3 separate regions of the Homo sapiens genome follow, and regions 2 and 3 are each linked to region 1. Evidence: fine-mapped expression QTL. A gene starts in region 1. Each other region holds a variant in brackets. All regions are shown on one strand. Distances are from middle to middle. Region 1 holds the start of CATSPER1 (cation channel sperm associated 1). Region 2 overlaps RAB1B (RAB1B, member RAS oncogene family). Region 3 has its middle 14 kb from the start of EIF1AD.

The links. PIP is the estimated chance that this variant, and not a neighbour inherited with it, causes the effect.
Region 2: its variant is fine-mapped to the expression of CATSPER1 in whole blood (TOPMed, PIP above 0.99).
Region 3: its variant is fine-mapped to the expression of CATSPER1 in whole blood (INTERVAL, PIP 0.96).

What each region holds. Positions count from the first base shown.
Region 1 is chr11:66,022,088-66,030,351 of GRCh38, forward strand. It overlaps CATSPER1 (cation channel sperm associated 1), which reads right to left and starts at 4,392. Exons shown (of 12, transcript NM_053054.4): 1 at 3,077-4,392; 2 at 762-974. The coding sequence starts at 4,292. RefSeq lists an enhancer at 563-1,064.
Region 2 is chr11:66,269,788-66,277,787 of GRCh38, forward strand. It overlaps RAB1B (RAB1B, member RAS oncogene family), which reads left to right. Exons shown (of 6, transcript NM_030981.3): 2 at 2,010-2,082; 3 at 2,370-2,465; 4 at 2,578-2,673; 5 at 6,017-6,148; 6 at 6,257-7,705. The coding sequence ends at 6,451. It overlaps LOC107984340 (a long non-coding RNA gene), which reads right to left. Exons shown (of 2, transcript XR_001748274.1): 2 at 2,370-2,805. Among named protein-coding and RNA genes, the nearest start is that of CNIH2, 4.4 kb to the right of the region's middle. RefSeq lists an enhancer at 2,099-3,298. The variant G/A (reference allele first, on the strand shown) is at 4,640.
Region 3 is chr11:65,983,998-65,992,261 of GRCh38, forward strand. It overlaps the pseudogene LOC100420020. Among named protein-coding and RNA genes, the nearest start is that of EIF1AD, 14 kb to the right of the region's middle. RefSeq lists an enhancer at 5,365-5,434. The variant G/T (reference allele first, on the strand shown) is at 3,343.

The sequences.
Region 1 (8,264 bases):
CCAGCACATTGGGAGGTTGAGGCGGGCGCATCACTGGAGGTCAGGAGTTCGAGACCAGCCTGGCCAACATGGTGAAACCCTGTTTCTACCAAAAATACAAAAATTAGCTGGGCATGGTGGTGGGCACCTGTAGTCCCAGCTACTTGGGAGGCTGAGGCAGGAGAATCACTTGAACCCGGGAGGCGGAGGTTGCAGTGAGATCGCGCCACTGCACTCCAGCCTGGGTGACAGAGCCAGACTCCGTCTAAAATAAAATAAAATAAAATGGGGATAATTGAAGTCCACTTGATAGAGTTGTGAGCGTTAAATGCATGAACACAAGCGAAGTGCTTAGAATGGAGCCTGAGACAGCGAGCCGGGCAGCTCCTGTCCTTCACCCTGCTCCACGGCGTTGGAGGGCCCAGCCTTCCCCGACCTTACATCCTCGCCCCTCCAGGGCCTTCTCGGGCTCCCGGCCCTTCCGCGAAGCTCGGGCTCCAGGCGCCCGCCCGCCCTCAGCCGCACATTTGGAGCAGATGCGCTCCCTAGTGGCTGCGGCGCGAACAGCACCGCCTCCCGCCTAGCGGGTCCTTCTGTCTCGGGCCGGCCTCAGCGGGGTCTTTCTGAGACGCTCTCTAATACTGGGTAAGGCCATCTACTTCCCAGGGGTGAGGATCAAGTGAGCTGAGTCCTATAAACCGCCCGGCACTGGATCAGGCCCACGGAGGTCCTGGAAGAGCATCGGTGGCTTCTCCATGGGAACAGGACTCCCTGGCTCTTACCGCCCCGGATCTCGACTTCAGCGAAGGTCTGGGCCACCAGCATGACGGTGTTGAGGCAGACAACGAAGAAGATGAAAGTTTCAAAGGCCAAGGATTGGGTCAGGTTCCGGATCATTTCCCGGAAGCCCTGAATGAGGAAGGTTAGCTTTTCCCACAGCCACTGGAAGAGATTGGTAGAGTGTCCCTTCTTGCGGGTCCGCTGGAGCCGGCCGGCTGAAAGGAACAGGGCCAGAAAGTCAAGTGTGTGCAAGAGGGGACACGAGGTCCCAGGCACCCCCCAGCCTGGCTCAGCGTCCATGGTCACTCCTGCCTGCTTGCTGGCCCTCTGCCTCCCGGGTTCAAGCAACTCTTGTGCCTCAGCCTCCCAAGTAGCTGGGACTGCAGGTGCCTGCCACCACGCCCGGCTAATTTTTGTATTTTTGGTAGAAACAGGGTTTCAACATGTTGGCCAGGCTGGTCTCGAACTCCTGGCCTCCAGGGCTTCCACCACGTAGATGCAGAAGAATATGGAGTCCAAGGCCATGAAGTACCACTCTGCAGGGACACAGGGGTGCGCTCAGGGCTGTCCCCAGCACCCAGTGCCCTCTCTCTCCTCAGCATGAGCCTCACACAAGCCCGGATTCCCAGGCTCTCTCCAGCTCTGGGTAAGCAGCTGCGCGACTTCACTACTGCTCTATGTCTCAGTTTTGTTGTCTTTAAAATGGGCATAATTGTGGCCAGAAGCAATGGCTCACACCTGTAATCCCAGCACTTTGGGAGGTTGAGGCAGGCGGATCACTGGAGGCCAGGAGTTTGAGACCAGCCTGGCCAGCAAATCCCCAACAGGCTGGTCCTGTGCCTTCTGTGGCAGGGGCCAGCCTGTTGGGGATTTGGAGTTGGCTTCTGGGGATCCTGAGGGCTCCCACTCCTATGCCTCCATGCCTTTCTTTGCTCACGTGGCAACTTACATATGGAAAACCCACCCTCCTCATCATCCCATCCTCTTGGTAAACTTATCCTCTCCCTTTCAGGTCCTGATGAAATGTTCCCTCCTCTGGGCTGCCTTTCCTGTCCCCATTTAATAACACACTTGCCCCTCTCTGCTTGTTCCTGAGACTGTTGTCATATTTTGTTTGTTGTTGTTGTTGTTTTCTGAGATGGAGTCTCGCTCTGTTGCCCAGGCTGGAGTGCAGTATCGTGATCTCGGCTCACTACAACCTCCGCCTCCCAGCTTCAAGAGATTCTCCTGCCTCACCCTCCTGTGTAGCCAGGATTACAGGCACGCACCACCACACCCGGCTAATTTTTGTATTTTTTTGGTAGAGACAGGGTTTTGCCATATTGGCCAGGCTGGTCTCCAACTCCTGACCTCAAGCAATCTACCTACCTTGGACTCCCAAAATGTTAGGATTACAGATGTGAGCCATCGCACCCAGCCTATTTGTTTTTTTTTTTTTTTTTTTTTTTTCCTACGGAGTCTTGCACTGTCACCCCGGCCGGAGTGCAGTGGCACGATCTCGGCTCACTGCAACCTCTGCCTCCTGGGTTCAAGCGATTCTCCTGCCTCAGCCTCCCAAGTAGCTGGGATTACAGGGGTGCACCACCACGCCCAGCTAATTTTTGTATTTTTTTGGTAAAGACGGGATCTCGCCATGTTGGCCAGGCTGGTCTTGAACTCCTGACCTCAAGCGATCCACCCACCTCGGCCTCCCAAAGTGCTGAGATTACAGGCGTGAGTCACCGCGCCTGGCCTGTTGTCATGTTTATTGAACTACTAGGAAGAAAGTTTGGTGGCGTATGAGCTAAAGGCCATGGTCCCTCCTTGCCCTCCAATAAGGCCCTCATTCAGGCATTAGTTCCTAATCTCTGTTCTCAAGCAGCTCACAGGTGAGTGGGAGAAATCTGGACAGATAGAATCCACCATGGTAAATGTTCTGAGGGCAGGCCCCGAGCACAGGATGATCTGTGGTCAGCTAAGTGACCACTCCTAGTTTTGGGCCCCTCGAGGGCAGCGACTGTGTTGAATTTTTCCCCATGCTGCCATGGCCCAGGCAGGCCACACACCCACATTGGATGAGTATCAATGTTTGACTGGTAGACATATGAATAAATAAGGCAGTGACTGAATGAACAAACACCTCATGGCCTAAAGAGGTACATAATTCAAGGAATAAAAGATGGGACCATGAACAGTCAGGAGAGTGAATAGCCAGTGGGGGACCTGTGCAGGAGGGTCGGGCCTTACGATCTGCGGAAGGACAGTGCGGGGCCGAGATCAGGTCTGGATCCTGCGCCAGGCAGCAGGAGTTGGCATGGGGGGCCCAGCAAAGACTCACTTTTGCGTTTCTGAAATTGCCCTTCTTCTTTGCCCCAGTCTTCTGAATGTTTGGTGGAGATATCCTGGGTATGGACTTTTTTGGACATCTGGGTGACACGTGAGCGGATTGTGCTGGAGGACCGAGTCATGCTGTGAGCCGAGCCCCGTGGGTGTGCTACGTGATAGGGGAAGACTCCTGTACGAGAAGCAGCAGGGCCGGGGGCATCGTGAATCAGGCTCCGGGATGTGTGTGGGATAGAGAGTTGGGAAGTGCTCTGGACGTAGTCGCCATGGAGGTAACTGGAATGATACGCGCCGTGGTGGTCTTGGTGCTGATGGTAGTCTCGGTGCCGGTGGGTCTGGTGGTAGTGGTGCTGTGTGTGGTGGGGATGGTCGCCATGGTGGTACTCACTGGGGTGGTGATCACCTTGGTGGTACTCGCTGTGATAGTCAGATATCCCACGCTGGTAGGACCCCACAGAGGAATGAGGGGAAATGGTCTCTCCGTGATGAGGAGACTTTCCATGCTGGTGGGCTTCATGATGACGGGACCTGCCATGGTGGTGGACTTGGTGATGGTGGGGCCAGCCACGGTGGGGGACTTGGTGATGCTGGGACTCATCGTGTTGGAGCCCGCTAAGGTGGGAAGCCTCGCTGTGGTGGAAGGACTCACTGTAGGGATTGGGTCCATGGGGGAGGTAGGACCCACCATGGTGGGAAGCCTCACCGTGGTGGGGCACGCCAGAGGAATAGTGGGATAAATTCTCACCGAGATATTGGGGTCTGCCATGGTGAGACCCCCTATGGTAATGGGAGTCACTCTGCTGATGGAACCCACCGTATTGGGACCCATCATGATGCCTCCTGCCATCACGTTGGAGCTCATCATGGTAGTCCTCACCGTAGGAACGGTGGGAGGGGACGGCGCCTTGAGAGGGAGCCAGACCAAAGCCTGTGGGGCCATGGGCTCTGCCGTGATTCCGTGCCTCGCTGTGGTGGTGAGATTGGTGGACATGGGAGGACAAGGCTTGGTCGTGGAAGTCTTGGAACTCCGGAGGGTGGTGAGATTCACCACGTTGGTGGGGCACGCCGTGATGGTGCAACTCGTAATGGTGGAGAGCTCTGCTGTGGCCTGGCCTGTGGTGTGGGGGTGATGAGTGAGAGCGAAAGAACCTATCTGCGTTATTGGTGTCTGCCTCATTCTGAGCCTTTTCAGGCACTGAGTTTTGATCCATGACTGTGCTGGGAACTCTGGAGCCAAAAGAGCTCAAGACCTGGGCCCAACAGGCCCCGCCTGGATTTCCCTTCTTTCCTGAGCCAAGCTCAATGCAGACTGTGGCACTGGGCTTCCAGAAAGGCCTGACTATTCTCGTGGAACTCTCCCCTCTATGATGTCACCAGCAGGCCAGGGCCTCATTCCCAAATGCCTCTTCCTGGGCTATAGTTCGGAATCAAGAATTATTGTGTCAAACTCCTTCATTGTAAATGAGGAAACCGAGGTCAAGAAAAGGGAAGGACTAGACCAAGGTGACCTCACAGGTCACTGGCAAAGCTGGACAAAGAAGTCCATGGGGGCGCCATGGCTTCATCAGCTACTTTAGCCCTGTTGTTGGAAAGAAAATGGTCCAAGTGGTCCAGTCTTCAGTCCCATCTAGAGATCAGCTGGCTCTGGGGTGAAGACTGCCTGACTCCCTCATAAGTAGGTGTGTGACCTTGGGCTTGTTGCTGAACTTTCCCGTGCCTCAGTTTCTTCCTCTGTAAAATGGGAATAATAATACCTAGCCCACAGGATCAAAAAAGTTAAGATATGTAAGCCTTATATTAACAGCATAATACATGGTTTTTGTTGTTGTTGTTGTTGTTTGTTTCTTTGTTTGTTTTTGAGATGGAGTCTCGCTCTGTCGCCCAGGCTGGAGTGCAGTGGCACGATCTTGACTCACTGCAACCTCCACCTCCCAGCTTCATGCCATTTTCCTGCCTCAGCCTCCCAAGTAGCTGGGACTACAGGCGCCCACCACCACGCCCGGCTAACTTTTTCTATTTTTAGTAGAGACGGGGTTTCACCATGTTAGCCAGAATGGTCTTGATCTCCTGACCTCGTGATCCGCCTGCCTTGCCCTTCCAAAGTGTTGGGATTACAGGTGTGAGCCACTGCGCCCAGCCCATGTTTTTTTGTTTTTGTTTTTGTTTTTTGAGACAGTCTCACTGTCACCCAGGCTGGAGTGCAGCGGCATGATCTCCACTCATGGCAATCTCTGCCTCCCAGGTTCAAGTGAGCCTCCTGCCTTAGCCCCCTGAGTAGCTGGGATTACAGCCACCCACCACCATACCCCACCCCGGCTAATTTTTTTTTTTTTTTTTTTGAGACAGAGTCTTACTCTGTCACTAGGCTGGAGTGCCGGGGTGCAATCTTGGCTCACTGCAATCTCTGCCTCCTGGGTTCAGGCAATTCTCCTGCCTCAGCTTTCCTAGTAGCTGCGACTACAGGTGCACACCACACCCAGCTAATTTTTGTATTTTTAGTAGAGACGGGGTTTCACCATGTTGACGAGGCTGCTCTTGAACTCCTGACCTCAAATGATCCACCCACCTCGCACTCCCTAAGTGCTGGGATTTCAGGTGTGAGCCACCATGCCTGGCCAATACATGTTAATTGGCATTATTATTCTCTTCTTGATCTTGGAACCCCCCTTTAGGGTTATTACCAAAATTAAACTATCAGCCATCATTTATTGAGGATTGCTTCATACACATTTTGTTTTCTTTCTTTCTTTTTTTTTTTTTGAGACACAGTCTTGCTCTGTCACCTAGGGTGGAGTGCAGTGGCATGGTCTCAGCTCACAGCAACCTCCACCTCCTGAATTCAAGCAATTCTCCTGCCTCAGTCTCCCAAGTAGCTGAAAGTACAGGCGTGCACCACTACGCCCAGCTAACTTCTTTTGTATTTTAGTAGAGATGGGGTTTCACCCTGTTGGTCAGGCTGGTCTCGAACTCCTGATCTCAAACGATCTGCCCGCCTCGACAACCCAAAGTGCTGGGATTACAGGCATGCGCCACCGTGCCCGGCCCATACACATTAAATTTAATCCTCACAATAGCCCCACATGGTAGATATTGTTTATCCCCATTTGACAGACAAAGGTGCTATGGCTCAGAGAATATAAATGAGTTGCTTGATGAATGAAAACTTACCGTCAGTGCTATCTCACTCCAAGTCTGTATCTGTAACCTTCATGCTGTCCTGTCTTCCTCCTGGAATCCACTGCAGAGCTTGCCCTGTATGCTGAATTCATATGTGCACAGCGCAGCTCTTCTGGAAGCTTATGGGTCTCAGCTTCTTGAGTGCTTGGTCAGAGCCATGTCCATAGTGGCTGCTGGGTTCCCAGTGATGAAAGAGACACGGCTCCTGTTTTAAGGAGCTCACTATCTGTTGCCAGCAGCAGACAAAGAAACAATTTGTGTGGGCTGGGCATGGTGGCTCACACCTGTAATCCCAGCACTTTGGGAGGCCAAGGCGGGTGGATCGCCTGAGCTCAGGAGTTTGAGACCAGCCTGGGCAACATGGTGAAACCCTGTCTCTACTAAAATACAAAAAATTAGCTGGATGTGGTGGTGTGCGCCTGTAGTCCCAGCTGCTTGGGAACTTGGGAGGCTGAGGCATGAGAATTGCTTGAGCCCAGGAGGCGGAGGTTGCAGTGAGCTGAGATCACACCATTCCAACAAGAGCGAAACTCCATCTCAAAAAAAAAAAAGAAAGAAAGAAAGAAAAAGAGAAGACTCTACCCTGAGAGAGAACAACAACCTCACATGTTGATGACATGATCTCTGATACTGAACAGGTTTTCGTTTTTGTTTTCTTGATAATAAACTGAAAAACAACTTGCTTTTTTTTTTTTTTTTTTTTGAGACAGAGTCTCCCTCTGTCGCCCAGGCTGGAGTGCAGTGGCGCGATCTTGGCTCACTGCAATGCCGCCTCCTGGGTTCACGCCATTCTCCTGCCTCAGCCTCCCGAGTAGCTGGGACTACAGAAGCCCGCCACCACGCCCGGCTAATTTTTTGTATATTTAGTAGAGATGGGGTTTCACCATGTTAGCCAGGATGGTCTTGATCTCCTGACCTCGTGATCCGCCCGCCTCAGCCTCCCAAAGTGCTGGGATTACAGGCGTGAGCCACCACACCCGGCCACAACATAATCTTTATCCTGGCTGATGAGTCAACTTATTTCACCAATAAAATGGTGAATGCTTACCACGCCATAGCACTAGTAAGATCTGTAAATGGTCAGCATGATCATCGAGAAAATGTTTCAGCTTTTCCAAACAAACAAAAAGCCAAGATAGATTTAATGTCATTTCATATCAGGAATCATCAAAAAGTCTGTCTTGGAAGAACTACCTTGGCATTTATACTGATGGTTCAAATCAGTGGTTAGCTCCATAAGAATTTTTACTGTTCTTGGAAAGAAACAAAACCACAAACAAAAACTTGATGTTGTCACAACACACTGCTTTCTTCACAGAGAGGCACTGGTGTCAGAAACTCTTGGAGATGAAAAGTAATGATGGAGCAAAACGTTTGCCTTTATTCAACAAAGACTCACTCACTTGAAAATGTTTTAAAAACTGGCCAGGCAGGCTGGGCGCAGTGGCTCATGCCTGTAATCCTAGCACTTTGGGAGGCCGAGGTGGGTGGATCAGGAGGTCAGGAGATCAAGACCATCCTGGCTAACACAGTGAAACCCCATCTCTACTAAAAATGCAAAAAATTAGCCGGGCGTGGTGGCGGGCGCCTGTAGTCCCAGTTACTTGGGAGGCTGAGGCAGGAGAATGGCGTGAACCCGGGAGGCGGAGCTTGCAGTGAGCCGAGATGGCGCCACTGCACTCCAGCCTGGGTAACAGAGCGAGACTCCGTCTCAAAAAAATATATAAAATAAAATTTAAAAAATGTGGCCAGGCAGGCTGGGCGTGGTGGCTCACGACTGTAATCCCAGAACTTTGGGAGGCTGAGGCAGGAGGATCACCTGAGGTCAGGAGTTCGAGACCAGTCTGGCCAACATGGTGAAACCCTGTCTCTACTAAAAATACAAAAATTAGCTGGGTGTGGTGGCGGGTGCCTCTAATCCCAGCTACTTGGGAGGCCAAGGTGGGAGAATCGCTTGATCCTGGGAGGCGGAGGTTGCAGTGAGCCGACATGGTGCCACTGCACTC
Region 2 (8,000 bases), 250 kb after region 1:
TAAATGAGATGATGCATTTAAAGTACTTCACACAGGGTCCGTCCACAGGTTGGAACTCAAGTATATTAAATGTGATTACCTTTTGCCTTTTTTTTTTTTTATTTTGAGACAGGGTCTCTCTCTGTCACCCAGGCTGGAGTGCAGTGGCGTGACGATGGCTCACTGCAGTCTCCAACTCTTGGGCTGAAGCAGTCCTCCTGCCTTGTCCTCCTGAGTAGCTGGGAATACAGAGGCACACCACCACACCTGGCACATTTTTTAATTTTTTGTAAAGACAGGGTCTCGATATGTTTCCCAGCCTGATCTCAAACTCCTGGGCTTAAATGATTCTCGTGCCTCGGGCTTCCAAAGTGTTGGGATTACAGGTGTCAGTCACTGCACCCAGCCTTAAGTGCAATTTTCACTGCAACTTGACCACCTCTTCCTGGTGACTTCATAACAGGTTTTTGTTGTTGTTGTTGTTGTTGTTGTTGTTGTTGTTGTTGTTGTTGTCTCCAAAGAGATGGGGTTAGCCGGGTGCGGTGGCTCAGGCCTGTAATCCCAGGACTTTGGGAGGCCGAGGTGGGTGGATCACGAGGTCAGGAGATCGAGACCATCCTGGCCAACATGGTGAAATCCCGTCTCTACTAAAAATACAAAAATTAGCTAGTCATGGTGGCGCATGCCTGTAATCCCAGCCACTCTGGAGGGTGAGACAGGAGAATCACTTGAACCAGGGAGTCGGACGTTGCAGTGAGCCGAGATCGTGCCACTGCACTCCAGCCTGGTGAGAGAGCGAGACTCTGTCTCGAAAAAACAAAAGAAAAGAGAGACGGGGTTGTGCTGCATCACCCAGGCTGGTCATACACTCCTAGGCTCCAAGGATCCTCCTCCTGTTTCAGCCTCCCCAGTAGCTGGAACCACAGGCACACGCCACAGCACCCAGCCATCAGTCTCTCTACGTGGGTTTTCAACTTAATAGGTTCTAGGCTGGGCCCTGGCTTCTACTTCTGGGGCCTTCTCTGCCAAGCTAGGCACACGCAGGGCATGTACTGGGGATTCCCTAAATAGCTCCTACTGGACCAAACCATGAAGTTTCAGAAATCAGGTTAGGATACCCAGCTCTGTTGCCTTGGCAGGTCACGTGTCTTGATTTCTTTCTCCATAAAGTGAGAATTTAGACTCAGCAAGCTGAGAGCCCTTTGGGCTAGCTGTTTGTGGAGGGAGGCATCAGCCCTCCCTGACCGGGACTGTTGGGAAGATCTGGTGAGCACCATAGTATTCTAAACCAAGGGATGGCCAGGCGCAGTGGCTCACCCCTGTAATCCCAGCACTTTCAGAGGCCAAGGCAGGTGAATCAATTGAACCCGGGAGTTTGAGACCAGCCTGGGCAACATAGTGAGACCCCATCTCTACAAAAAATGAAAAGATTAGCCAGGGGCCGGGTGTGGTGGCTCACACCTGTAATCCCAGCACTTTGGGAGGCCAAGGCAGGTGGATCACCTGAGGTCAGGAGTTCGAGACCAGCCTGGCCAACATGGTGAAACCCTGTCTCTACTAAAAATACAAAACTTAGACAAGCATGGTGGCAGGTGCCTGTAATCCCAGCTACTCGGGAGGCCGAGGCAGGAGAATTGCTTGAACCCGGCAGACAGAGGTTGCAGTGAGCCAAGATCGCGCCATTGCACTCCAGCCTGGGCAACAAGAGCAAAACTCAGTCTCAAAAAAAAAAAAAAAAAAAAAAAAAATTAGCTAGAAGTGGTGGTGGTGGTGGACACCTGAAGTCCCAGCTACGCAGGAAGCTGAGGTGGGAAGATCACTTTGAGCCCGCAAGGTAGAGGCTGCAATGAGCCGTGATCACTTCAGTGCACTGTAGCCTGGGTGACAGAGTGAGACCTTATTGCTAAAAAAAAAATAAAAATAAACCAAGGGATGCCTCATGGGGTGGGGGAATCCTGTAATTGTGACTCCAGGATGATGGTAGGTGGGCTCCCTGCCTCCCTTCACGCCTTCCCATCTTCTCTCTCCAGTGACTACCTGTTTAAGCTGCTTTTGATTGGCGACTCAGGCGTGGGCAAGTCATGCCTGCTCCTGCGGTTTGCTGTGAGTAAGAAGCCTCCCATACCATCCACCTGGGGTCCTGACTGGCAGCTGGGGGGAGAAGGGACAACACAGAGCACAGTAGTTGCAAGATCTGGGAACCAGGGGTGAAGCTGTAAGACCTGCCACCAGCACATCTGCCCTGAACAAGACAGGGCTGGCCAGCTGAGTGCTGGGAATTGGGGCTTGGTGGTTCGGAGACCCAGCTGGGGCAGGGAACTGGAGGGAGGCTCTCCAAGTGGGCCTCACCTCATTAACTCCCATGATTTCATTGGCCCCTGAACTTTCAGGATGACACGTACACAGAGAGCTACATCAGCACCATCGGGGTGGACTTCAAGATCCGAACCATCGAGCTGGATGGCAAAACTATCAAACTTCAGATCGTGAGTGTCGCTCTTCCCAAAATCCCCAGTACAGAGGTATCCACCTTGGGAGGGAAGGGACTCTGGGACTCTGGACCTCAGCTGACCTGCTCCTCTGCCTACTGTCTCCTAGTGGGACACAGCGGGCCAGGAACGGTTCCGGACCATCACTTCCAGCTACTACCGGGGGGCTCATGGCATCATCGTGGTGTATGACGTCACTGACCAGGTACTCCTGGACTAGCCATCCTCAGCTTGGCCTCCTTAGCCTTAGGTCTTTGACTCTTCTTTTTCCTCCTTCCATCCTCTCTTTCCTGATGCTTCCTGGAAAGGACACTATTTGTCTGCTTACAGGAACTAACTAGGAAAAAGAAAAAAAATAGGTGACTGTACTTGGACTCATTTCACAAGGAGGGAAACAGCCACAGAAATGGATCCTCTGAAGGCCCTGCTGCAGGTTCTGGCAGGACAAGGCCTCACACCTTCCCTCCCCACCAAGCCAAACTTGCCACCTTATTGTAGACCTTCTGGGCACCTTTGTGTTGTGGGAGTTTAGTCAGGCGGTTGGCTGCTATGCTGGGCCTGTGGCTTCCTGTGTGAAGACACAGTGCAGGGGGACAATTAGAGGGCCTTAGACAAAGAAGCAGGGAAGCTTGAGCTCTGGGCCCAATGTGAGCAGAGATCCAGAAGCTCTGCCTCCAGCAGCAGCGTTAGTCCCATGTGACTAGCAGTGGTGGTAGCAAGGGCTGGAAATGGTTCCATGAAACCTTATAGTTTACAGAACCTGGCCCAGCCCTCAGATTGCCTCTGATGCTCAGAAGAGGTCTGTGTTCCCATCGCACAGGTAAGGAGCTGGGCTCAGGATGGTGAGGTGACTTGCCGAGGGTCCTTCAGCTAGTCCGGTGGCAGAGGCAGAAAGCCTGGATGGCTCATTCCACCTGCTTTGTTTTTTCTACCAAATGTTGTTGCTTAACAGGGCCAATCCCTGAAGATAAGGAGAAGCTTAAATCAGCCGTGGGCCGGGAAGAGTCCCTGTCTGAGGAGCAGCCGGGCTCTTTAGCTCACCAGGGACTCATGATGTCCCCAGCTCTGGACGAGCTGTGGGGAAGCTACATACCACCCAGACAAGTTACCAGGGCCCACCTGACTGCCATATATCCAGTGATCTTATTTCAGCACATTGACCTCTCGTGGCTTTGGACACTGCTCTCTTCTCTCTCCTTGAAAAGTGGACCATCCCCCGCTCCTCAGTCTCCTGCAGCACTCGATTCTCTATTGTCAGTGTCTATTTGCTGGTCTGTCCAGTGCTGCCTCCCATCACCCTGTGTTTGGTGCTTCCCCACTGCCCTGGACTCTCCTCCTTACTCTTGTGCATGGCTGCGGCCACTCTGTGGTTTGCTTCTGCCTTGTGTTCTGTGATTCCTGCATCTAACAGCCGTGGCTGTGGCTTCCCTCCTCTGTCCATGTCTACACTGGCACTTTGTGTCTGTATTAATCCTGATCTTCATGATCTTCTCTAGTAAACTAAATGGTGAGGTTTGTGTTTTCTAGATGAGGAAACTTGCTTGGAGAGGTGTTAAGTAACTTGCCACCGGTCTCACGGGAAGGGCAAAGCCAGTTTTGGAGGGCTCTTGGCTTTTGAGCACACCCTTTCCCACCCTCAAGCAGCCTCTGCAGAACTCAGATGTCCAGCGCTGGCCTCACTGTCTCTCCCCAAACCAGCGCCTCTATCCCCATTTTTAATATTTTTATTTATTTTAAGACATGGGGTCTCACTCTGTCACCCAGACTGCAGTGCAGTGGTGTGATCATAGCTCATTGTAACCTCAACCTCCTGGGCTTAAGGGATCCTCCTGCTTCAGTCTCCTAAGTCACTGGGACTATAGACACACACCACCATGCCCCAGCTGCATCCCCATCTTTGTGACACAATCCTTGTCAGCCTGACCAGAAAACTCTTCCCTCCCCCATCCAGTCAGTCTCGAGTCCCCTCTATTCTCTCCCCATCATCTTTCTGAAATCTGTCCCCTCATAATAATAGCAGTGATGAGGATAATAGCAGCTCTTGCCAATTAAGCACTTGTTATGAGACAAGCCTGTGTTCATTCTCTTCATGCTCACAATCAGCCCTTCTAGGAGGTACTGTTTATAGAAATGAGGAAACTGAGGCTCAGAGTGGTCAGGTAACATACCTG[G/A]GGTCACACAGTAAATGGCTGAGCCAGGCCTTCAGCAGCAGTGGTCTGACTAAATCCTGTGTGCTTCCCTGGCTCAGTGCACGTTCTCTTCCCTGAGTTATTCCAGCCATTCCCAGTTGGTCTCTATCTTGCTATTCTGATCTGGGCTCTGCCTCCTGTCAGGACTAGCATAGGTGTGATCCTGTTGCTTCTGGCCTAAGAAACGCCCACTGGCTCCTGGTCTAAGTCCAAGACTTAGCCATGCTAAGACAGTCTGTGCTCTGGCCTCTCCCCAATCCCCCCTCTTTCCTCCCCTCTTCCCCCTCTCCCCTCTTGCCTTTCTCCTCCCCACTCCCCCATTCCCCCTCCCTGTCCCCCCTCCCTGTTGAGTGTCTGCATCCCAGCAACATTCCATTTCCTCCCATTCCCCAGACACACCATGCCCCTCCCGTTCAGTGACCTGGCACATGCTGGCTCCCCAGCTGGCACCTCTCCTGCACAAGGCCAGTTCCCACCTGCAGGCTTAGGTCCACTGTTGCTCCCACCTCAAGCAGAGGTGGTCTGGGGGCTCCCCAGCCCCTGCCTTCTAACCTGTTTTGCCCTTGTGTGTGGCCTGGTCTATTCATCTACTGTCCCGTGAATGTGTTAGGGCAGGGCCCAAGTATGATTTCCCCCTTTGTCCCCAGCACTTAGCACAGGACCCAACTTGGAACATGGCAAGAGGTCTAAGTTTGAGCCAGTGTGATATGACCAGGCTTCTGGCTCCTAAGGAGTATAAGTGGCCCTAGCTTGAGCACTTTCCTGAAAGTCCTGTCCTTTGTGTGTGGGGTAGGGGCGCAAGTGCTGGGAGAGTCTGAAGCCAAGTAATGAGGCTGTTGGTGCCAAAAGTAGGATGAATTTTAGGCTGTTCCCAGGATTCCTGTCTCCCCACAGGCCAGGGCCACCTCTGAGAGGACCCTCGAACTCCTGTGCTCCAAGGCTTCAAACCTTAAAGGGATTTTCAGGCCACGGTGGGAACTGTGGCTCTTGCGGACCCGTTACTCTCTGTTCCTATCTCCCGTCCGCTCTCTCTTTGCTTCTCACATGTGGTTAGGGCCTGCAAGTGTCTCAGGGAGAGAGACAGCTGCAGGGAGCAGAGCTGGCAGGCCCAAGTTGGGGCAGCTGTTGAGGTGTTGGGGCAGCTGGCAGGCTGCTGGGGCTGTTCTGGGTCTCGGATGGAAGAGGGCAGGGAGGAAGGTTCAGCCTGGAGCAGAGGGCTTCCTCTGCATCTCTGCATCGCTGAGCCCAGGACTTAAGGGGCCCGGAGCTGTACTGTTCCCCTCAGAGAAGGTCTTCTCCAGGCCTGGGGTAGGGGTGACAGTTGGGAGCAAAATAACTTTGGCCCCTGGCCCCCTTTAGGAATCCTACGCCAACGTGAAGCAGTGGCTGCAGGAGATTGACCGCTATGCCAGCGAGAACGTCAATAAGCTCCTGGTGGGCAACAAGAGCGACCTCACCACCAAGAAGGTGGTGGACAACACCACAGCCAAGGTAGCAGACGGGCCGGTCTGCCCGGGGTCGGGGCGCTGGGGCCTGCTGCCCCTCACCTGCTCTCCCCTCCTCTTCTCTCCCCTCCTCTTCTCTCCTCTCCCTTGTCAGGAGTTTGCAGACTCTCTGGGCATCCCCTTCTTGGAGACGAGCGCCAAGAATGCCACCAATGTCGAGCAGGCGTTCATGACCATGGCTGCTGAAATCAAAAAGCGGATGGGGCCTGGAGCAGCCTCTGGGGGCGAGCGGCCCAATCTCAAGATCGACAGCACCCCTGTAAAGCCGGCTGGCGGTGGCTGTTGCTAGGAGGGGCACATGGAGTGGGACAGGAGGGGGCACCTTCTCCAGATGATGTCCCTGGAGGGGGCAGGAGGTACCTCCCTCTCCCTCTCCTGGGGCATTTGAGTCTGTGGCTTTGGGGTGTCCTGGGCTCCCCATCTCCTTCTGGCCCATCTGCCTGCTGCCCTGAGCCCCGGTTCTGTCAGGGTCCCTAAGGGAGGACACTCAGGGCCTGTGGCCAGGCAGGGCGGAGGCCTGCTGTGCTGTTGCCTCTAGGTGACTTTCCAAGATGCCCCCCTACACACCTTTCTTTGGAACGAGGGCTCTTCTGTCGGTGTCCCTCCCACCCCCATGTATGCTGCACTGGGTTCTCTCCTTCTTCTTCCTGCTGTCCTGCCCAAGAACTGAGGGTCTCCCCGGCCTCTACTGCCCTGGCTGCAGTCAGTGCCCAGGGCGAGGAATGTGGCCAGGGGATCCAGGACCTGGGATCCAGGGCCCTGGGCTGGACCTCAGGACAGGCATGGAGGCCACAGGGGCCCAGCAGCCCACCCTTTCCTCTCCCCACTGCCTCCTCTCCCTTCCTACACTCCCAGCTCGAGCCGTCCAGCTGCGGTGGGATCTGAGTATATCTAGGGCGGGTGGGCGGGTAGCAGTGCTGGGCCTGTGTCTTGAGCCTGGAGGGAGTCTGCTCCTGCCGCCCTCTGCCCTGCCAGAGACAGACCCATGCGCTGCCTGCCCACCGTGCCCCTTTGTCCCCATGTCAGGCGGAGGCGGAAGGCCCACCGTGCCAGAGGCTGGGCACCAGCCTTAACCCTCACTCTGCTAGCACCTCCTCCCTTTCCCCAAGGTAGCACATCTGGCTCACTCCCCACTCCGTCTCTGGAGCCCACCAGGGAAGGCCCTCATCCCCTGCCGCTACTTCTCTGGGGAATGTGGGTTCCATCCAGGATTGGGGGCCTCTCTGCTCACCCACTCTGCACCCAGGATCCTAGTCCCCTGCCCTCTGGCACAGCTGCTTCCTGCAAGAAAGCAAGTCTTTGGTCTCCCTGAGAAGCCATGTCCCTCGTGCTGTCTCTTGCCTGTCCCACCTGTGCCCTGCCCTCCAGCTTGTATTTAAGTCCCTGGGCTGCCCCCTTGGGGTGCCCCCCGCTCCCAGGTTCCCCTCTGGTGTCATGTCAGGCATTTTGCAAGGAAAAGCCACTTGGGGAAAGATGGAAAAGGACAAAAAAAATTAATAAATTTCCATTGGCCCTCGGGTGAGCTGAGGGTTTTTGCAAGGAAGTTGTGGTGGCCAAGTGTGGTCTGTGGTCTAAGCCCAGCCTTGGGGTGGGGGGATGGAACTGGAACCCTGGGCTTGGTGGGGTGCACGGGGGTCCTGGCTTGGTTTCTGTGTCCTAAGGCTGCTGGCAAAAGCCCTTGACCCCGTTTCCTGAGGCCAGGAAAGCTGCTTGTGCTTCTGTGGTCTGTCCCCAAGGGCCCAGCACCGTTCTGTCAGGGAAAGAGGCAGGCGGCCATCAGCTCATACCTGGCGTGCCGCCGCCAACTCCCGCGGGGCACACGGCAGAGGTGTGGGGTC
Region 3 (8,264 bases), 38 kb before region 1:
CGAGGGCAGGTAACCCGCTGGGAAGTCACTTTGCAGATGAGACAGCTATGAGGACTTCAGACATCTTTCTCCCTCGGGTGCATTCTGGATTGGAGCAGCTTTGTTGCAGGTACTGCATTGACTACAAGCTGATGAGTTCTGCCTTCCACCTTGATGAGCAGTGGGCACTCTCACTCCCCAGGCTGGTCAGGGTGAGTAGGGGGCTGGGTGTACCTCATAGAAGGGGGTATGCCTGGGGTGGGGCAGGTTTACTGGCTTCACTCAATGGTACAAAGGGGGTCAGCATCTCTGGGCCCAGCCCCACTCCCATCCCACCCTACTAAATCATTGCCAAGGGAAGCCTCTCCATCTGCGGCCACCACTAGCAGGTCACCAGCCTAGTAATATCCTTTTTACTTTTTTTAAGACAAGGTCTCACTGTGTCGCCCAGGCTGGAGTACAGTGGTACAAACATGGCTAGCTGCAGCCTTGACCTCCTGGCTCAAGTGATCCACCCACGTCAGCTTCCTGAGTAGCTGGGACCACAGCTGCATGCTATCATGTCTGGCTAATTTTTTTGCAAAGACAGGGTCTTGCTATGTTGCCCAGGCTGGTCTCAAAATTCCTGGGCTCAAGCAATTCTCCTGCCTCAGCTTCCCGAAGTGCTGGGATTGCAGTACTAGCCACACCCAGCCGATAGTAGGTTTTAGCAAAAGGATTCAGTTCAGGCAACTGCACCCATTGCAGTTCTGGCCATGAGCCACCACACCCAACCAGAATTATTTCAAAAGATTTTAAGATAGAATATTTTGACCTCACATCCCTAGTAGGATATCTATTTAAAAATTTTTAAATTAACATAATGAAATCTTAAACACATTTAATAGTCTTATTGTTAGTAATAATAATGATGATATTGGCTGGGCATGGTGACTCGTGCATGTAATCACAGCACTTTGGGAGGCCGAGGCAGGAGGATTGCTTGAGGCTAGGAGCTGGAGACCAGCCTGGGCAACATTGCGAGATCCCCATCTCTACAAAAAATTTAAAAATCAGCCAGGCATGGTGGCATGCACCTGCAGTCCCAGCTACTCAGGAGGTTGAGGCAGGAGGAGTTGGAGACTGCAGTGTTCTAGGATCATGCATTGCACTCCAGGCTGGACGACAGAGCAAGACCCTGTCTCAGAAAAAAACCAAAAAATACAAAGAAAAGAAAACTGAAGCTGTGTAACAGGTACAATGGGATTCATTATTCCATTCTATCTACTTTTGAGTATGTTTGAAAATTTCCATTATAGAACTTTGTTTAAAAAGAGAGAACAAGAACATGTTGGCTTAGCAACAGAAAAGCATACATATGTTCAGCTAAAGACATGAACAAGAATGTTCTTAACAGCACTATTTATAACAGCCCCAAACTGGAAACAACCCAAATGTCCATTAACAGAAGAATGAATAAATAGCCGGGCATGGTTCTTAGTGCCTGTAATCCCAGCTACTGGGGAGGCTAAGGATCCCTTGAGGCCAGGAGTTCAAGACCAGCCTGGTGACATAGTGAGACCCACCTCTAAAAATATTTTTTAAATTTAGCTGGGTGTGGTGGCTCATGCCTGTATCTGTAGTCCCAGCTACCCGGGAGGCTGAGGCAAAGGATTGCTTGAGCCTGGGAATTTGAGGCTGCAGTGAGCTATCCTCACACTTGTGAATGGCCACTGCACCCCAGCCTGGGTGACAGAGTGAGACTCTGTCTCTAAAAAAAAAATCAACAAAGGGTAGACATTCATATAACCGAATGAGTAACATGGATGAACCTCATGGACATGAAATTATACATACTGTTTGCTTCCATTTAATACAAAATCTGGAAAAATTCTTTTATTCTATTAGAAGCAGTATAGAAGGCTGGGTGCGGTCACTCATGCCTGTAATTCCAACACTTTTGGAGGCCAAGGTGGGAGGATTGCTTGAAGCCAGGAGTTCTAGAGCAGTCTGGGTAACAAAGCAAGACCCTGTCTCTACAAAAAAATTTTAAAAATTACCTGGGCATGGTGGTGTGTGCCAATAGTCCCAGCTACTCAGGAGGCTGAGGCACAAGAATCACTTTAACCTGGGAGGTGGAGGTTGCAGTGAGCCGAGATGGTGCCATTGCACTCCAGCCTGGGTGACTGAGTGAGGCTCTGTCAAAAAAAAAAGCATCGTTTTAAATAATGACATAAATATAAAAAATGGCCAGCATGGCTGGGCGCAATGTCTCACGCCTGTAATCCCAGCACTTTGGGAGGCTGAGGCGGGCGGATCCCGAGGTCAGGACATCGAGACCATCCTGGCTAACACAGTGAAAACCCATCCCTACTAAAACTACAAAAAATTAGCCGGGTGTGGTGGCGGGTGCCTGTAGTCCCAGCTACTCGGGAGGCTGAGGCAGGAGAATGCCGTGAACCCGGGAGGTGGAGCTTGCAGTGAGCCGAGATCGCGCCACTGCACTCCAGCCTGGGCGACAGAGCGAGACTCCGTCTCCAAAAGAAAAAAAAAAAAAAAAAAAAGGCCAGCATGAGAATGAGTGAAAGTTCATAAACTCTTCCTATGGTGACTCACATATGGCATAAGGAACTAGCTCACTGGTTTTGCCTTCTCCTTCCTCTCTTCTGTAAGGTTCTTCATTTCCCAGGCCTGTAACTTGCTGTCTTCCCACTACGGTGCCTTCTAATAAAGAGCTTCCAAAACTAAAAACAACGTAAATCTTTGCTGCGGTTATTTTTTGACGCATCAAAAAAGGCACCAAGCCTAGATGTTTTTAAAGCTTCAAAAGTTTATTGACCGGCACCATGGCTCACACCTTTAATCCCAGCACTTTTGGAGGCCAAGGTGGGCGGATCACCTGAGGTCAGGAGTTCAAGACCAGCCTGGCCAACATGGCGAAACCCTGTCTCTACTAAAAATACAAAAATTAGCCGGGAATGGTGGCAGGTACCTGTAATCCTAGTTACTCAGGAGGCTGAGGCAGGAGAATTGCTTGGGGCCTGGGAGGCGGAGGCTACAGTGAACTGAGATGGTGCCATTGTATTCCAGCCTGGGTGACAGAGTGAGACTCCGTCAAAAAAAAAAAAAAAAGGTTATTATCTAAAGGCTTTACCTTTAGATAATAGATCATTCAAATGCTATTTAAACTACTCCAGATCAGAGAAAAAGATGGTAAGCGCTCTTAACATATTTTATGATATTAATAAAATACTGATAGCCAAATCTTCTCATTGTTTCTGAAGTTTGTTTTCTAGAAGTTCCTTCTGTCTGCTGGTGATAAACTCCTATATTCTGTTGGTCTGAATGTCTTCACCATGGTGTAGGGAGGAGACAGCCGTCGTG[G/T]CCCCCAGGGCTGTGGTGAGAATCAAAGCTGTCCTGCCTTGGGCATGTCTCCAAAGCCCAAACACACTGGGAAGACGGAGTTGGCCCCACTCAGGGTCTCCACTCAGATCAGGCTGGGTCCCACTTCCCTCTCCCTGAGCCCCGGACACATCGATGCTGTCATTGCATGCTGATTCTCCGAGTCCCTGAGCCCCGTACCCCCCGGCCTTAAGGAGCCTTGCCAGTGTCCTCCCCACCTCGCCCCTGCCCAACAGACACAGCACGCCACCTGCTCTGCCTTGGGTCCCAGGCCTTTCCCTCCTCAGGCACCTGTTCAGGGGCAGTGAGAGAAGCAAAACAGCCCTTCTGTGCCAATGCACACCCCACCTGGGGAAGGAGGCAGACAGGAGGGCTCCTCAGAAACGGCTGATTTGTCAGCCCTGGACAAAGTGAAAGGGAGAAGCAAGAAGCAGGACAGATGGGCAGGTCTCCTGCGGCCCACCCCCCCAAAAAAGGAATGTGTGGGCCGGGCGCAGTGTCTCACGCCTGTAATCCCAGCACTTTGGGAGGCTGAGGCGGGTGGATCACCTGAGGTCAGGAGTTCAAGACCAGCCTGACCAACATGGAGAAACCCCGTCTCTACTAAAAATACAAAAAATTAGGCAGGCGTGGTGGCAGGTGCCTGTAATCCCGGCTACTCAGGAGGCTGGGGCAGGAGAATCTCTTGAACCCAGGAGCCAGAGGTTCCAGTGAGCCGAGATCACGAAGCAAGGAAGGAAGGGAGGGCGCGAGGAAGGAAAGATGTGGCCATAGATCGTGAGTAGGATCGATAAGACAGAACTCCATTGTCGAAAGCTAAATTATGGCAGACACAAAGCGGATGGGAGACCCACATGAAAGAAGGCACTTGGAGCCTTCAGAGAAGAACGCAGGGAGGCAAAACCCCCAAAGGCCTGAAAGCTTCAGCAGTCACTAGAAGGGGAGCTGAATACATGTGCTGAGGGGCCCTGGGGAGACGACCCTTCCAGAGGCTGCAGTTCTTAGGTCTTACCAGCCCCTCCTTGCTGCCCATCTACCAGGTCCAAGGCTCCCTGAATCCTCAGACATTAACTACAGGGGTACCTCATCCTTGTCCAGAGCAGGGTTTCTGGGGGACACAGCCACAGACACCTCCATGTGAGTCCTCCTGCACCTCAATTTGGGTGCTTTCTAACTGAAAGACCAGGGCGGCCAGGCGCGGTGGTTCACGCCTGTAATCCCAAAACTTTGGGAGGCCAAGGCGGGCAGATCGCCTGAGGTCGGGAGTTCAAGACCAGCCTGACCAACATGGAGAAACCCCATCTCTACTAAAAATACAAAATTAGCCAGGCGTGGTGGTGCGTGCCTGTAATCCCAGCTACTTGGGAGGCTGAGGCAGGAGAATCGCTTGAATCCAGTAGGCGGAGGTTGCGGTGAGCCAAGATCGCGCCAGTGCACTCCAGCCTGGGCAAGAAAAGTGAAACTGGGTCCCCCAAAAAACAAAAAAACCAGGGCAGTTCCCCACCACCCTCCAAGCACTGTACTCCAGCTTGTAAATGCTGCTGGGGAGGAAGGCCACTTCTGATCATGCCTTGGTGAGTGAATCCATCTCTGGGGGAGTGGAACTTGTGTTCGCAGTGGTCTACCAGCATCCTAACTGCTGTTGGGGCATGTGGACCCTTTGATTGGACCAAGAATGCAGTTCCCTTATGAGACTGTAACTAGGTTAGATGCTTTCGGGTTCTGTAGCCCAAGGCAAGGTGCTGACTTGCTGGTTTTACGTGCTTAGGGTGACCTCTGCTGGTGGCTTCTCTAAATGTTGGCAGAATACACAGCCAGGAACTGCCGGTACCGTCTCACATCAGCCAGTAGTTGGAGCCACATTGCTATCAGAAGGAAAAGAGTGCTCTTCTCATACAAGAATTATTAAAACAAAGTGATGCCCAATGCTGTTCAAGAATGAACAGCCTGGTCTGGTTAGTAACAAAGGATTCTGGTACTTGGCAACTCATTGTGGATTAGCAAGGGTTAAATAACAAAGTGGGTATTTTAGCGTCATGAGAATCTATCACAATAACTGGAAGAATTGCTGCCAGTACTGGCACCTGGTGTACAGCCCTGGGCACTGCTAGTTCTTTTTTTTTTTTTTTTTGGTTGGAGTCTTGCTCTTGCCCAGGCCGGAGTACAGTGGCGCCATCTCGGCTCACTGCAACCTCTGCCTCCCCTCCTGGGTTCAAGCGATTCTCCTATCTCAGCCTCCCAAGTAGCTGGGATGACAGGCGTGCACCACCACACCCAGCTAATTTTTGTATTTTTTTAGTAGAGACAGGGTTTCACCAGTTGGCCGGGCTGGTCTCGAACTCCTGATCTCAGGTGATCCACCTGCCTTGGCCTCCCAAAGTGCTGGGATTACAAGCGTGAGCTACCGCGCCCAGCCTGTACTGCTAATTCTTCATTCCTCAGTGTCACCAGATGAGGCATACGGCATGCCTCCACACCTCCCACAGGGGCTTTTGGATTCTCTTGCAAATGTCACCAGTGGATCAAACACACGCACAGCATGAACTGCTGGTGGTGTCCGTGGTGTCCTGACTTCTTGCTTCATCAGTGATTTTCTGAGGGCGGCTCCCACTGAGGAAACTGCCCACACTTCTCTGTGTGCTTCTCAGACACAGGTCAGTAGAGATGTTTGGGCCTTGAATGAAGACAAAACCCACGGTTCTGTGGCCCAAGTCACTTTCCTGGGAGACAACTGGGCAACTACTAAAGACGAAGCACCAGGCCGGGCACGGTGGCTCACCACCTGTCATCCCAGCACTGTGGGAGGCCAAGGCGGGTGGATCACCTGAGGGCAGGAGTTCGAGACCAGCCTGGCCAACATGGTGAAATCCCATCTCTACTAAAAATACAAAAAAAATTAGCTGGGTGTGGTGGTGCAGGCCTGTAATCCCAGCTACTCGGGAGGCTGAGGCAGGAGAATTGCTTGAACCCTGGATGCGGAGGTTGCAGTGGGCTGAGATCGTACAATTGCACTCCAGCCTGGGCGACAAGAGCGAGACTCCATCTCAAAAAGTAAGTAAGTAAGTAAATAAATAAATAAATAAAAATAAATAAAAATAAAGCAAACCATGTAAAAAGAAAAAAAGTGCACATGGAATTCGGACAATGGTTGCCTTGGGTGGGACAGCAGAGAATGGGCTGGTCAGGGTAGGATGGGAGGTGGAGTATGTTACTTGGGTTATTGTTAAAGTCCTAGCCTTTATTTTATGGTGGTGGGTTTGAAGCTGCTCACATTATTAAAAATAACCAACCAAATATTTAATTATTCTTGACTTTTAATTTTTTATTGAAAGGGAGTCTCACTATGTCACCCAGGCTGGCCTCAAACTCCTCAAGGGCTTAAGCAATCCTTTCCCTTCAGCCTTTCAAGTAGCTGGGATTACAGGCATGTGCCACCATGCCCAGCCAAAATGTTTAAATATAGGCCAGACTCAGTGGCTTACGCCTGTAATCCCAGCATTTTGGGAGGCCGAGGCGGGTGGATCACCTGAGGTCAGGAGTTCGAGACCAGCCTGGTCAACATGCTGAAACCCCGTCTCTACTAAAATATAAAAATTAGCCAGGCGTGGTGGTGGGCGCCTGTAATCCCAGCTACTCAGGAGGCTGAGGCAGAAGAATGGCTTGAACCTGTGAGGCACAGGTTGCAGTGAGCTGAGATTGCACCACTGCACTCCAGCCTGGGTGACAGAGCAAGACTCCATCTCAGAAACAAAACAAAACAAAACAAAACAAAGAAAGGAAAAAGAAAAAGAACTACAGGATAAACCCAGAGGGATTGGTTTGTTTCCCATTGGTTATGAGAAAAAAACAAAAACAAACAAAAACAAAGGGAGTATAAGTGGGAAATACGGTAAGAGCAGCAATTAATGAAATACCAATACAAAGAATGACAACAAAAAGCTGGTGCTTAGAAAAGACTAATAATGACCTTCTGCCAAGATTGACCAGCTATAACAGAGAGAAGGCACAAATAAACAATATTACATGTAAAAAGGGGGACATAACTTTGGATACAGCCAAGATTACAAACATAAGGCAATCATACAAATAACTTTGCGCCAGTAAGTTTGAAGCCATAGCAAACATGAGAAAATATGGGGGCTGGGTGTGGTGGCTCACGCCTGTAACCCCAGCAATTTGGGAGGCTGCGGTGGGCAGATCACCTGAGATCGGGAGTTTGAGACCAGCCTGGCCAACATGGTGAAACCCCATCTCTACTAAAAATACAAAAATTAGCCGGCCATGGTGGCACATACCTGTAATCCCAGCTATTCGGGAGGCTGAGGCAGGAGAATCACTTGAACCCGGGAGGCGGAGGTTGCAGTGAGCCGAGATGGGGCCACTGCACTCCAGCCTGGGCGACAGAGCAAGATCCTGTCTCAAAAATAAATAAATAAATAAATAACATGAAAATATTTTTCCTTGAAAATATGACTGAAGAACAGAACACCTGAGTAATCTATTACCACTGACAATCTAATTCCAAACCTACCTACCCACCCACCCAAAAAATCGCCAGGCATGGTTGGTTTTACAGCAAGCTTTACCAAAAATTGTAGAAATGCAAAATTCCAATCTTATACAAACTCTCGTAATGAAAATAAAGGGAAAACACTTTCCAACTTATTTATATGAAGCTGGTATAACCTTGATACAAAACAAAGGGTGGGGGCAGTACGGAAAAGGAAAACCTTAAACCATTTCACCTATACACCTGGATGCCAAAATACCAGAGAACCAAATCCGGCAGTATAATAACAAATCCATTGTGACTGTCTTCTTCCAGGAATGCAAGGATATCTTAACGTGAGAGAATGTTATGATACTCCACCACATTTACAGATTAGAAGAGGAAAACCATGTGG